Regions from separate parts of the Homo sapiens genome. Here region 1 is linked to region 2. Evidence: fine-mapped expression QTL. Tissue or cell type: unexposed skin. Region 2 holds a variant in brackets; the other region holds the start of a gene. All regions are shown on one strand. Distances are from middle to middle.

Region 1 (6,088 bases), 46 kb after region 2:
TCACTTCCCTTCTCCTTTCCCTGGAAAGATATAATGAATACATAAAGACTTACTGGTACTGAAACTCAAAAAAAAAAAAAGATAAAAAAGATCTGACAATGAGTGATGCTAAACATTACTCACCAGGGTAATGTTTAAAAAGGGTCACCAGAGATGGCAGGGCTGCCTATAACAGGTGACGAGATGGCTAAGAAGGCTCAAGCAAGACTCTGGCCAGAAAGAGGAGCTCCTCCCAGCCAGAAGAACCTCAGAAGGGTTAAGTGGCAACAACTTCAAGTCCATCTCGCAAGAACTTTCAGCCACCAATAAATCCAAGAACTGAAGGCCTACTGCAAGGTGGCGCTTGTGTAGGGGCTAGGTAAAGCTGCAAAGGAAACACAGGCTGCTGTCCTGGGCCCACAACTGCTCTTGGATGTCACACTGGAGGGGACTTAACTCTCACTTCATGATTGAGGAAACTGCAACCCCAGAGTGTGAACATCCAGGCCTCCAGAGGCCATCTGCAGAACGGGGTCACCCTCCAAAGTATTTTTTTTTTTTTTTTTTCAGACTGGGTCTTGCTCTGTCACCCAGGCTGGAGTACAGTGGCATGATCTACCTTGTTGCAACCTCTGCCTCCTGGGCTCAAGTAATCCTCCCAAACTCAGCCTCCCAAGTAGCTGGGACTTCAGATGTGCACCACCACACCCAGCTAATTTTTGTGTTTTCTGTAGAGACGGGATTTCACCATGTTGCCCAAGCTGGTCTTGAACTCCTGGGATCAAGCAATCCCCCTGCCTCAGCCTCCCAAAGTATTGGGATTACAGGTGTGAGCCACTGCACCCAGCACACCCCAAAATCTTCATCTTAAGACCTACCCAGTTACCCCAGGACACCAATCTTGTTCTGTTTCCCAATTAGCTTTGTCTCATCATAAATGCTATACTCTGCAGATACTCTTGATTCACTCAATCATTTAACAGAAATTCATCAAATGTCTACTATGAGCCAGCACTCTGCCTTCAAGATATGAACAGAGGAGAGTAGCTGCCTGGCTGGCACTTGGGGCTCAGGATGAGACGACAACCTAGAAATGGGCTCATCATTAGACCAGGGGGAAAGTGGGGTATGGTGCTATGAGGCGGGGAGGGATCCCTGGGGGGCCCCCGGGCTGACCTACTGAGAAACAGGGTCTATTACACTGAAGAGCTTAGACCCGTCTTGCAAGGTGTTGTTTACCTTAGGCTATTGCTTCACAATCTTCAACCCTCGCAGGCCCGTCAGGTAGATCTGGGATTTTGTGTCATCACTGGTACAACAGTGACACCACCATGTTCTCTTCCACAGAAGTACTTTAGGATGACAGTGCAGCTGGCACTGTTGAGAGCCAACCTTGAATCCAAATGAATCTAAAACGTAAATTTTAAAAAGAAAGTCATTGATAAATTTCAGTACTTTATAACTAAGAAGTTACTTGTGGCCAGGTGTGGTGGCTCACGCCTGTAATCCTAGCACTTTGGGAAGCCAAGGTGGGTGGACTGCTTTGAACTCAGGGGGTTGAGACCAGCTTGGGCAAGATGGCGAAACCTTGTCTTTACAAAAAAAATACAAAAAAATCAGCCAGCTGTGATGGCCTGTGCCTGTGGTCCCAGCTTCTTGGCAGTCTGAGGCAGGAAGATGGCTTGAGCAGGGAAGTGGAGATTGCAGTGAGCCGTGATTGCACCACTGCATTCCAGCCTGAGCAACAGAGCCAGACCCTGTCTCAAAAAAAAGAAGTTACTTGTGACACACATCACCACAGCTGACAACACATTGGAGGCCTACAACCACAACAAGACAAGATTCCAAGGGCTTCTAAGCTGAAGCACGGCCTTTTGGGCTGCACGCCTGCCCATAGTCGATCATGTGGGCAGCAGTCAGGAAAGCGCCCTAGCCAGGCCACATGGGAAGCAGGCACATCCCTGGGAGGCAAAAGGGAAAGCGGGCCAGGCCGGGGTGACGGCAGGGCGGGGTGATGGCACAATGCATGGAGGAGACTGTGGGGAGAGCTGTTCAGGAGGTGGCCCATGCCTAAGCCTCAAGTGGAAGAGGAGGAATGATGGAGAGCGCCTCCACAGTGAGCCTCTTTCCTCATACAGGTCCATGTGGGCTATTTTGGGGCAAATCTTCAGGCAAGTTTCTAGAGAAACTGAAGGAAAACACCAGAGGGGGCTGCCCAGGTAATGCTGACAATACAGGGAGGTGAGAGGATGAGCAGATCTCAAAGGTGACTGAGAGGCAGAGGGGAGAGACAAGGAAAAACCAAAGTAAAGTGAAGTTAGGGAAACCAAGAAAAGACTTTCCAAAAGCAGTGGTCAGCGGGGTCAAAGGTCCCTTCAGTGGGCGGTACAGCAGGAAGTGGGGGAGAAGCAGGAACCGGGAATGCTGGAGGTGGGGATGGGAGGGAAAAGGCTTGGCTCTGTCCCTAAACAGAGAGAAGGTGACCTGGGAAGAGCGGGGAGGCTAACTACACAGGGAAGAGAAGCTTCCTGGAGAAAGGGATCCAGGGCACAGGCGGTGGAAGGGATTGGCCTCAAGAGACCAGGAAGAACTCTCATTTTTCCTGACAGAGAAAGTAGGATGGGTCTGGTAGCAGGCAAGTCCTGGAGTGCTGTGCAGAAGGGAAGTGAGGCAGCTTATGCCTGAGAGCCAGGCATGTTGATTGCTCACGGGGAGCCGTACATCTGTAAAGGCAGCCAGCGGCTGGCTGAGTGATCTGGCTTAGCCTGGGCTGGGAAGCACCTCCGCACACTGGCTCAAGAAATTAGACCTATTCTTCTCGCTGCTCTCACCAAGCCTTTTCCCAAGTGCGTGCCCAGAAGGAAAGCGGCCACTCTTCTACTTCTCTTGTGCCTGCAAGAGAAGTAGAACCCCACCCTGGGCATTCCATGATTATGCCAGGCCTTTCTCACTCCGCCCAGTCCCTCTCCAGCCCCTCTGCTCTCAACTCCAGCACTGCAGGGGGACAGAGTGTCTACTCCACCCCCACCAGGCAGGGGATTTTAAGCACCTGCTGGGCCCTCAAGTCTCATCTTCCTCCACAACATCTGTGAGAAGATTGAAAGGTGGTGAGAGAAAGGGATAGGAGGAGATGAACGTGTGAAAGGAAAAGAGGAGAGCAAGCCATTGCATGTTTTGGGGTTTTGTCCCACACGCAAATTTGACTACTTATAAAGTCTAAGCAAGATGTTTTAAATAATAATCATGCATCATTAGGTTTCATACTGTGCAAAAAAAATGACACAAAGTGAGATCTGTTACAAACGACACGGCAGCACTCTGCTACTTTCTGGAAGCTTAGGGCTAACAATGGAGTCAGAGCATGGCATCCAGAGCCCGTCTCTGAGCACGGCCGTGATCCTGCTCCAGCACACGCCTCGGTTTCCTCGTCTACATTACGGGAATAGTAACAGCACCCGCCTCATGAGATTGTTAGTGTTAAACGAGTTAATTAATACCACAGTATTTCAGGGCAGTTCTCGGCACAGAGGGAGAGATGGGTAAGGGCTGGCTGTTCCGGAAGATTCTGGCCTCTCCCAGTGTGTTTCGGCGCGAGGGCACCGCTGGCCCAGCAGGTGGCCCCCCGGGGCCGGCACGGGCCCCGACAGCCGCCCCCTTCCCTGAACCTCGGCGGCCCAGTCCCCGCTTACCTGAGGGGTGGAGCCGGCAGCCTGCGGAGCCACTGGCCAAGCTGGGAAGTCCGGCGCAACTCCGCACCGCAGAGCCGGCGCCTCCTCGGCAGGTAAGAGCCGCAGCCCCGCCGCCCGCCGCCTGGCGGCCCCTGACCCCTGGGCCGCGTGCCCACCACCCAACTTGTTGGCCAGCGTGCTTCTCCCAGCGCCGCAGGCCTGAGCTCCCGGAACGCGCCCAGGGGGCCTGGCCAAAGGCCGTAGTGGGCGCTCTGGATTCCGGGATGCGCCAGGGGTTACTTCCGGAAGCGCAGCCTGCGGGGGTCTTCGCGCGCACCCCCCGCCTCGCAGTTGGTACGTTCCTCCTACCTGCGGTGCCTGAGTGCGCAGGCGTGGGCAGCGAGGCGGTGCGGCCGGAAGCGAAGGGGCCGTGAGGTCAACAGTCGGTAATCGTTTATCGGTGCGGCCTTAGAGAAAGGACCTCCAAGCCCTTGTTCAATACATGTTGGGTGGTGGTCACAGGTGCCAGTCTCCGGACGGATGGCGGCCTAGATTTCCTCCCGGACTCGGTGGCACCCAAGGCCCCCTGCACGCCGGCGCTGTGCGTGCCAGGCTGACCGCCCGAGTGCGACCCGGACCTCGTCCGCACGTGCAGATGGAAGGGGCCACAAAGACGATAAGGATCCAGGTCTCCCGCGTGGAAGGCTCATCTATCGGTCGGTTCAGGAAATCCACCCAGGGTGTCTCCTGGTGTTATCAGAAAGGGGTCCCGATCCAGGCCCTAAGAGAGGGTTCTTGGATCTCATGCAAGAAAGAATTCAGGGCAAGCCCATAGAGTAAAGTGAAAACAAGTTTATTAAGAAAGCAAAGAAGTAAAAGGATGGCTACTCCATAGGCAGAGCAGCTCCAGGGCTACTGGTTACCCATTTTTTGGTTATTTCTTGATTATATGCTAAACAAGGGTTGAATTATTCATGAGTTTCAGAGAAAGGGGTGGGCAGTTCCCGGAACTGAGGCTTCCTCCCCTTTTTAGACCATATAGAGTATTTCATGATGGTGTCATGGCGTCTGTAAACTGTCATGGTGCTTGCTGGTGGGAGTGTCTTTTAGCATGCTAATGCATTATAATTAGTGCATAATGAGCAGTGAGGACCACCAGAGGTCCCTCCCATTGCCATATTGGTTTTGGTGGCGTTTAGCCAGCTTCTTTACTGCAACCTGTTTTATCAGCAAGGTCTGTATGACCTGTATCTTGTGCCAACCTTCTGTCTCATCCTGTGACTTAGAATGCCTAACCTCCTATGAATGCAGCCTCATTTTACCCAGCCCTTATTCAAGATGGAGTAATTCTGGCTTAAACACCTCTGACACTGGGGCAAATGCCTGCTGCCTGATGACTCCCACAAGTCCTTAACACCTAACCCAGAGAACATCTGGGCCTGCATCCACTCTGGTGCTCTGCCACTCCTGCAGCTACAAATTGTGTGGGAGCCGAAGAAGTCATGTTCCCTGGACGAGCACAAAATGCCTGTTTGTCCCATGTTGGTTCCACATGTGCACCAAAGTGAACAACTTTTGTCTCCCTGGCTACCTTGAACTTCTTTCCACCTCCTCAGTTGGACATATTCAAGGGGCTGGCCCGGGGGCAGGCTTCCCTAGTCTTCCCAGGGGCAACCTCAGCTTTTCCCATATCTTTCAGATGACCCTTCTCCTGCCCCAAGCAAATTAATGCCAAGCCAGTCTAGTTCTCCAGCTTGGGCTACAGCTGGGACCCCTGCCCAAGAATAGTGATTTTTATCTTTACACTTTATCCAAGTTTTTTATTTTTATTTTTATTTTTTTGAGATGGAGTCTCACTCTCTTGCCCAGGCTGGAGTGCAGTGGTGTGATCTCAGCTCACTGCAACCTCCACCTCCTGAGTTCAAGCGATTCTCCTGCCTCAGTCTCCCAAGTAGCTAAGACTACAGGCGTGAACCACCACACCTGGCTAATTTTTGTATTTTTAGTAGAGACGGGGTTTCGCCATATTGGCCAGGGTGGTCTCAAACTCCTGACTTCAAGTGATCTGCCCGCCTTGGCCTCCCAAAGTGCTGGGATTGCAGGTGTGTGCCACCCTGCCCAGCCATATGCAAGTTATTTTTAATTTCAGTTGATCTCCATGCCTCGGAGATGGAAGTATTAGTTTCTCCATTATATGGATCAGAAAATTGAGACTCACACAGCATGTTACAGTAGGAAATGGCACTAAAAGAAAAATTATTCAAACAATTGTTAAGGTGAGAGACTTTATTCAAGAACAGCTGCAATAGGGATTATGCAATAGGGGCAAAAAAATCAGGCTTAACATCAAATACAAGGACAGGTGGAGATTTATAGTTAAGCAACAGGGTGGAAGTCAGCAGATGGAAAATTACTAAGAGGACACATAAAGGTTAGGGAGA
Region 2 (7,322 bases):
CTAACAATTAGAATTTCTAACAATTAGAATCATCCAGGGCCTCAGGAGGTGCGGAAGTTCCTGTCACCTAAGTGCTCAAGCAGAGGCCAGGTGTCCATATGCTAGAAATGGAGAAAAGGAAACTCACCAGCAACTTCCCCTCAGCTGGCCCTCCATCACCAATGCGGCAGTCCTTGCCGTGACATGCTGAGCTCTGGAAGGAGCGAAGGAGGGGCTGCGGTGTTCAGACAAGAGCCTGGACACAGTGCTGCTGACAGCCAGGGGAGGCTCTCAGCGCTGGGAGGGGCGACAGATAAAGCGAGACAGACCAAGGAGTAAATGCCTTGGGATCTGCTCTTTGGGAAGGAAGAGGATGGAAGTATTAACAGCAGACGGGTCTCTCCAAGTCTGGGTGCCTACGCAGGGGGCAGGTGGGAGGGGAAGGGAGAGGTAAGAGTGGCTTCGCTTCACCTCTTGCTGCTGGCAAAGGCCCAAGTGCTGTCTAACAAGGCCAGCAGGTTCTCCAAGCTGTATCTAGCCCAGAGCATTCATTTACAGGACTCTACCACGCCTGCTTCCAAAAATGATCTTAAGTAACTTACAGTAAAAGACAGGGGCATTAAGGCGTTAATACCAGAGGATGGAGGGTCTTCCTTTCCACTGGTGGCTCCTCTAGCCAGAGGGCTCTAAGGGGCGGATGCTATTGCTGCTTTTCCAGGGCACAGGGCAGTCAGGACGGAGCCTTAGCACACACCAGCTGGAGGCCGGCGTCCCTGCGCTTGGAAGTGGGTTCCCTGGCCACCGGGGTTGACCTCTCTCGCTAGCAGGGCCCACCCAGCTCACTCCCCGCGTCTTCCATCCCCTCTAGGATTCCCATTGTCCCCTACTCCAGCACTAGGCAGGCACCCCCAGCCCACTGCGACTCCCACCACGAAGGACCCCAGCCCTCTCTCAGCCAACACGGCCCCGCCCACCGTCTCAGACATCGTGCTTCTTCTGGTGGGCCAGGAGTCTCTCCTCGTCGTCGAAGGTCTGGCCACAGATGGCACAGCAGAAGGCGCCGTCCCGGATGTGGCTCTTGCGGTGGGTGATGAGGTTGGACTTCTGGCTGAAGCTGCGGTCGCAGTCGGGACAGGCGTAGGGCCGCTCGCCCGTGTGGATGCGCCGGTGCGACACCAGGTTGGACTTCTGGCTGAAGGCTTTGCCGCAGTCGGGGCAGACGTAGGGCTTCTCGCCGGTGTGGATGCGCCGGTGCGCCGCCAGGTAGGGTTTGTGGCGGAAGGCCTTGCCGCAGTCGGGACACACGAAGGGCCGATCGGGGGCGTGGTCGCGCCGATGCGCCGCCAGATGGCTGCCCTGGGAGAAGCGGCGGCCGCACTCCTCGCAGGCGAAGGGCCGCTCGCCGGAGTGCACGCGCGAGTGCGCCACCAGGTGCGTCTTCTTGCCGAAGTTCTTCCCGCACTCGGCGCAGGTGAAGGGCCGCTCCCCGGTGTGCTGCCGCTGGTGGGCCCGCAGGAAGCGCTCCAGCCGGAAGCTCCTGCCGCAGTCGTCGCAGCTGTAGAGGGAGGGGGGGGCTTCGATCGGGTCCTGCGGGTGCTCTGGCGGGGCCCCTGGCGGCGGCTCCTGGGCCGGTTTCAGAGGTACCGCCGGGGTGGGCTCGGCCGCGGACTCCTGGGGGCCGGCTGGCAGCTGGGGGCTCCCCGGGCCGGGGGCGGCCTGGGCCGACCCCTCGGATCGCTTGTGAATCTTGCTGTGAGACAGCAGGTTGGGTTTGTGCCGGAAGCGGCGGCCGCACTCTTTGCACGGGTAGGGCTTCTCGCCGGTGTGGATGCGCCGGTGCGAAGTCAGATAGGGCTTATTGGTAAAGCGCTTCCCGCACTCGGGGCACTGGTGGGGCCGCTCGCCCGTGTGCACGCGGCGGTGAGCGATCAAGTTGGGCTTGTGCCGGAAGCGCTTGCCACAACAGGCACACTGGAAGGGGCGGTCGACGGCATCTCCACCGGGCCGGGGGGCGGTCACCGCGGGGCGGCCCCTGGGCCGGGGCCCCAGAGCCTTGGCTGCGGCCTCCTCCAGGGCCTCAGCTACGTGCACCCGCTTGTGGGCAACTAGCTGGTCCCACTGGGCAAAGCTCCGGCCACAGTTGCCGCATATGAAGGGCCGGGCCTCCGGGGCGGGAGGGTGGCACCGCCGCAGATGAGCTCGAAGCTGCTTTCGTCGCCAGAAGCGTCTCTCGCATTTGGGACAAGCGATGGGCCGCTTTGCAGCTGAATGGGCCCGCAGATGCAGAACCAGGGCCACCCAGCCTCGGAAGCTCTGCCCACAGAGGTGGCAGGCAAAGCCCAGGTCTGGGGTGGCAGCAGCATGGACCTGGCGGTGCAGTGCTAAGAAGGGGGCATGGCGAAAGCGACGGCCACACTCAGGGCAGGGCAAGGGCAGCCGGGCCTGGCACCGGCGGGTGTGAAGCCACAGAGCCACCCAGCCAGGGAAGTGCCTTCGACAGTGGGCACAGCGATGGGCCCTGCCTGGGGCTTGGGCACCAGACTGGGCCACTGACGTGCCTTGTTGCCTCAGCCCGCGGGACTCCTTCCCCAGGGTCTGGGGTGACTCCTGGGAGGGCCCAGAAAGGAGTCGGGGCTGGGCCAGGCCCATGGCCAGGGGGCCCCTGCAACGACGTTCCAGCATCGGTTCTTCCTCTGCTGAGGGTGGAAAAGCACAGTCACTCCAGAGACCAACTCACTCTGCCCCTGTTTCTCCCCTCCCAACCTCAGCCCCGGACAGGAGCTGCCATCTATGAACCCCTAGAGCCCCGGACATGGAGCTAGACTACTCTCCTGTTTCCTTGTGTGGTATGTATTATTTCAATCTTGGGTTTTTAGATAACATTTCAAGGATGTTTGTCTTATGTCTTTGTTGCCCTGGAAACTTCCAGAAGGGAGGGACTCTGATACTAGAATCCCCCTCATGGCAGCTACCCCAGTGTCAGACAGGGAGTAAATGCTCCAGTGCTGAATGCACAAACATTCCTGCCACAGGACTCACCAGAAAATGTGGCCACTGCTCCCTACAGTGCCTTATGCTGCCCTCTCCCTGTGTCTGCTGTTTCCTATGCCACATCCGAGCTGCACAGCAACTCTGAGAAGCTGGACAAACAGACACTGAGCTCCCTGTTTAACAGATGAAGCAACTGTGAGACATCAAAGATGACGAGACCTGCCCAAGGTGACACAGTAAGCCAACAGCAGAATCAAGACTAGGGAACAGGTCTTTAAACTCCCAGGCCAGTGTTCTTTCCTCTAAAGCGCCTGGGTTTGCAAAGATCTCAGAGAAAAAGGTGTCTATAGCTTTTCATTCCTAGCCCCACAGGGGAGGCACTTTCAGCATCACTAACTGCAGTCTCCGTAGGAGGCTGGAGGACAAGTGAGAACAGCCCTTCTCGGGGAACAGGAGCAGAGCCCTGGGTGCTACTCCCGGCAGTCTAACGCCAGACCACCGCCTGCCCAGACTGTGCCCCCATTCTGCCCGCCTGCCCTCTTCCACCCACACAAATTAGGACATTGCAGGAAGGAA[G/T]GCTCTCCCTGAATCCAAGGAACACCCACAGCCTGCTGCCCTCGGGGCCTGATCACCGGCTCTGCCTCCCTCGGGGTGCTGGAGATTACTGGGGCAATAGAAGGGGAGGGAAGATGAGACTGCAATCTCAGTCCCCTGCCCGGTCCTGCCCCAACCTCGCCAGGGGCTGCCCCATGTTCAGCTCTTCCACAGCTCAGGGGAGCCCAGATTCCTGCACAGGAGCCTCCTCCGCGGAAGGAGGAAGGAAGCAGTTAGGCTCCTAAGGGCCCTTCTGTGCCTGCTCACAAGCTCCAGACACATCCTTCTAAATTCCCTAGAGCGCACTCTCTCTTCTCAGGGAACACAAAGGTCACTCATTCCCAGTGTCAGACTGTGCACAGGGAAGACCCCAGGATATGAGAAAGGGCCATTTCCTTCCGCCGGGATGGGGACGCCCGTGCACCCCTGTTGTGGCGTGGTTTGGGAGCACAGCAAAGGCCAGACTCTACCCTGGAGACTGCAGAGCTGGGGATGAGGCTTTTTCCAGCTCCTCTTGGGGATGTTCCTGGGGATACTTCCGCGGCTGCAGCGCCTGCTTCGGCCCACACTCCGGTAGCCCCCAGGTGTTAGAGAAAACTGCAGTAATAAAGACACCCCTATCCCCATGGCAGAGCTCAGACCTCTGACTGCAGAGAGGCCAGCCTTACCTGTGGGGAGGGAAGAGAAAACAGAAGTGAGGCTCTGAGCTCCTCTAGGGCAGTCAGCTTTGTGTCCTCACCAGCCACAACCCCTCCCCCCACAAAGCCACACGCACCAGCCATAAGCCCCACATCCTGCCTGGCAGAGTGACCTTAATGGACATTGGATTAATAAATGAATGTGCCCCTTCAACAAGGAAGCACACTGCTGTCTTTCGGGGTCACTTTCTTCCCTGGTAAGGTCACGGAACGAATTCTCCATTCTGTGGCCAGAGTCTGGGCTTTCCCTGATGGCCAAAGGCCGGCCTATGGCAGGAACTCTGGAATCCCTGCTGGCTCCCCTTCCCCCAGCCTCCTCCCGACAGGAATTCCAGGCCTATTTCCCATGGGGCTGCGCAGGGCCAGCTGGTGTGACCACGACTCCGTCAGAATCCCCTTCCGCATCGCGGCTGGCCGCGGGTGGCAGAAGCCCCACACCGCCCTTTTGTACTGATGCGTGTCCTCCGTCCACGCTCCCGGGCACACGGGTCCCGTTCTTGCGAGTGAGCCATTTCGGGTCCCACGCACGGCGCAGCTCGCGGAGCCTGTGCGCAGGTGCGCTCCCCCACCCCCGCAGATCCAGCAGCGTCCCCCCCCGCGCACTCACACACGGTCGCGCACACTCACGGTCACGCGCCCCGCAGGTGGAGCGGCCCCCCGCGGGCCCGCGGTGGCCCCGCGCCCCTGCCCCGGCCGTACCTCTGCGGCGGGCTGTGCAGGGACGCGGCGCCCGTCCATGGAGCCCGAAGGCCGGCCTCCGCGGCCCACTCTCGCTCCCCGCCCCGCCGCGGCGACAGCGGCAGGTTCGAGTTCACAACTGCCAGGCCCGTCCCCAACCTCCCCCCGCCGGGTTCCCAGCGCCACGTGACTACAGGAGCTGCCGAGGGTCAGTCGCCGGCTCCCGCGGCCGCGGCCTGGGGGCGGGGAGGGACTGCCGGGGCCGGGGCGCGGGCGCCCCCGCCAAGAGCGGGCCGGGTCACTCAAGCCACTGCCGCGCCAGGGCGGCAGGCCTCGGAGGGTCGGACTCCGTTGCCATGGCGACCACCAGCCCGGGTTTCTCTGGGACTGGCCGGAGCTCAAGTTTCCCGACCCTTTGTCCCTGCGGAGCACGCGCGTCCCCGGGCGACCGCGTGGCTGGCCTATGGTCACCGGGGTGTTCGGCCTTAGCTGCCTTATGAGAGGCTGGGAGCCCGTCGGGAGACTTCAAAGAGGGCTCCGGCAAGCCCCCGGAGCGTCGTTGCCCGGGCCTTTCTCAGGCCGCGCACCCCGGCCGCAGTGCGGACGCTTGCGGCCGCGGCGGTCCCGGGACGGCGGTGGCGCACCTGGAAGGCCCTAGCTTCCGATTTGTTCCAAAGTGGAGCACAAAAAGGCCCGATCCTGCGAACTTTGAAAAGGCCTCTCTTCACTCTTTTCTAGAAATTAAGAAAGAGCAGAAGTTGCTGGGCTTCCTCTGGCTGCGGGCCAAGCGTGGGGCGACGGCCGAGGTGGCCGTTGGCGCACGTGGGGCATTTCGCTTGGAAAGGCTCAGCAGCCTGTGTGGCGTCTGCGGTGGCAGGTGCGAGCCTGTGCCCATGACTCACCCACTAGCAGGTGGCCCTGGCTTTCCAAACTAAACACTTCCTGGGGTTTCCAGGGTAGTACAATTTCATGTACTTTCATGCTTTTCAACACAGGCAATTTTTGAATTGTATAATTAGTCGTAAAAATACTTTTTAAATCTATTGCATAAATAGGAAATAGGGGAACATAAAACTCAGTTTTACCTCGTAGAGTCAATTACATTTAATATTTTGGTATGTTGCCTCCGGTGTTTTCTCTACGTATATCCATGGCATGTCTGGCATAATTGGAATAATGCCTTGCGAAGATGTATTCTGCCTTCTTCACTTAACACGATCTTGTGAATTTTCTTCCATTTTATTAGATATTCTTTTAAACATGATTATTTATGGCTGTATAAAAGGAATATATTTTTTAAATGTTTTCTAAATTATCTTCCAGGAAAACGTATTAGTTTTCCCTGAGAAATGCCCATTTTCCATATACTTGACAACACAGACTTTTTTAAAAAAAAAATTTAGTTTGAAATGGTTATTTCTCATCTTTTGTACTTGCATTTCTTAGAGTACTAGTTAGCTGGATTGTTTTTTCACATGGTTATTTTTTGCCAGTTTTATTTTCTCTTGTGAATTTGTTTATGTCCATTTGCCCACTTTTCTATTTGCCCATTTTAAAAGTTGGGGAGTTGGTTTATTGTTTGGGGGGCACTCATAAAGTACAGGTATTAAAGACTTGTCATGTTTGTTGCAGACGTGTTTCCTCGTACTTGTTAACTTTTTTTTTTTTTTTTTTTGAGACAGGGTTTCACTCTGTCACCAGAGCTGGAGTGCAGTAGCACTATCATGGCTCACTGAAGCCAGGACTTCCTGAGCTCAAGCAATCCTCCCACCTCGGCCTCTGAGTAGCTGGGACTACAGGATCACATCACCACATCCAGCTAATTATTTTATTTTAATGTTTTTCTTCTGTAGAGATGGGGTCTCACTGTGTTGCCCAGGCTGGTCTCAAACGATCCTCCCGCCCCAGCCTCCCAAAGTGTTGGGATTACAGATGTGAACCACTGCATCCGGCCTACCTTTTCAGTTGTTGATGTGAGAAAGTTTTGCTTTAGTCTATGTGCTGCTGAAGCGAGCATAAGAAAGTTTTGTTTTATTTTTATTTTATTATTTATTTATTTATTTATTTATTTATTTATTTATTTATTTTGAGATGGAGTCTGGCTTGTCTCCCAGGCTGGAGTGTAGAGGGAGGTGTGATCTCGGTTCACTGCAAGCTCCGTCTCATAGGTTCTCGCCATTCTCCTGCCTCAGCCTCCCGAGCAGCTGGGACTACAAGTGCCCGCCACCACGCCCAGCTATTTTTTTGTATTTTTAGTAGAGACGGGGTTTCACTGTGTTAGCCAGGATGGTCTCGATCCCCTGACCTCGTGATCTGCCCGCCTTGGCCTCCCAAAGTGCTGGGATTACAGGCATGAGCCACCGTGCCCGGCGAGAAAGTTTT

Evidence for each region. PIP is the estimated chance that this variant, and not a neighbour inherited with it, causes the effect.
Region 1: LRRC61 starts here. The variant in region 2 is fine-mapped to the expression of LRRC61 in unexposed skin (GTEx, PIP 0.96).

The regions. Positions count from the first base shown.
Region 1 is chr7:150,321,141-150,327,228 of GRCh38, reverse strand. LRRC61 (leucine rich repeat containing 61) reads right to left here and starts at 3,874. Exons shown (of 3, transcript NM_001142928.2): 1 at 3,669-3,874; 2 at 1,219-1,388. It overlaps ACTR3C (actin related protein 3C), which reads left to right and starts at 3,684. Exons shown (of 8, transcript NM_001164458.2): 1 at 3,684-3,760. RefSeq lists enhancers at 3,045-3,114, 4,435-4,494, 4,545-4,654 and a silencer at 3,505-3,824.
Region 2 is chr7:150,366,581-150,373,902 of GRCh38, reverse strand. REPIN1 (replication initiator 1) reads right to left here and starts at 5,081. Exons shown (of 3, transcript NM_001099695.2): 1 at 4,962-5,081; 2 at 4,035-4,232; 3 at 1-2,675. The coding sequence starts at 4,191. The coding sequence ends at 958. It overlaps REPIN1-AS1 (REPIN1 antisense RNA 1), which reads left to right and starts at 960. Exons shown (of 4, transcript NR_183429.1): 1 at 960-1,062; 2 at 2,748-2,825; 3 at 3,047-3,198. RefSeq lists enhancers at 236-385, 3,093-3,897, 3,898-4,703, 4,704-5,508, 5,548-5,607 and 1 more and silencers at 4,168-4,317, 4,828-5,297. The variant G/T (reference allele first, on the strand shown) is at 3,547.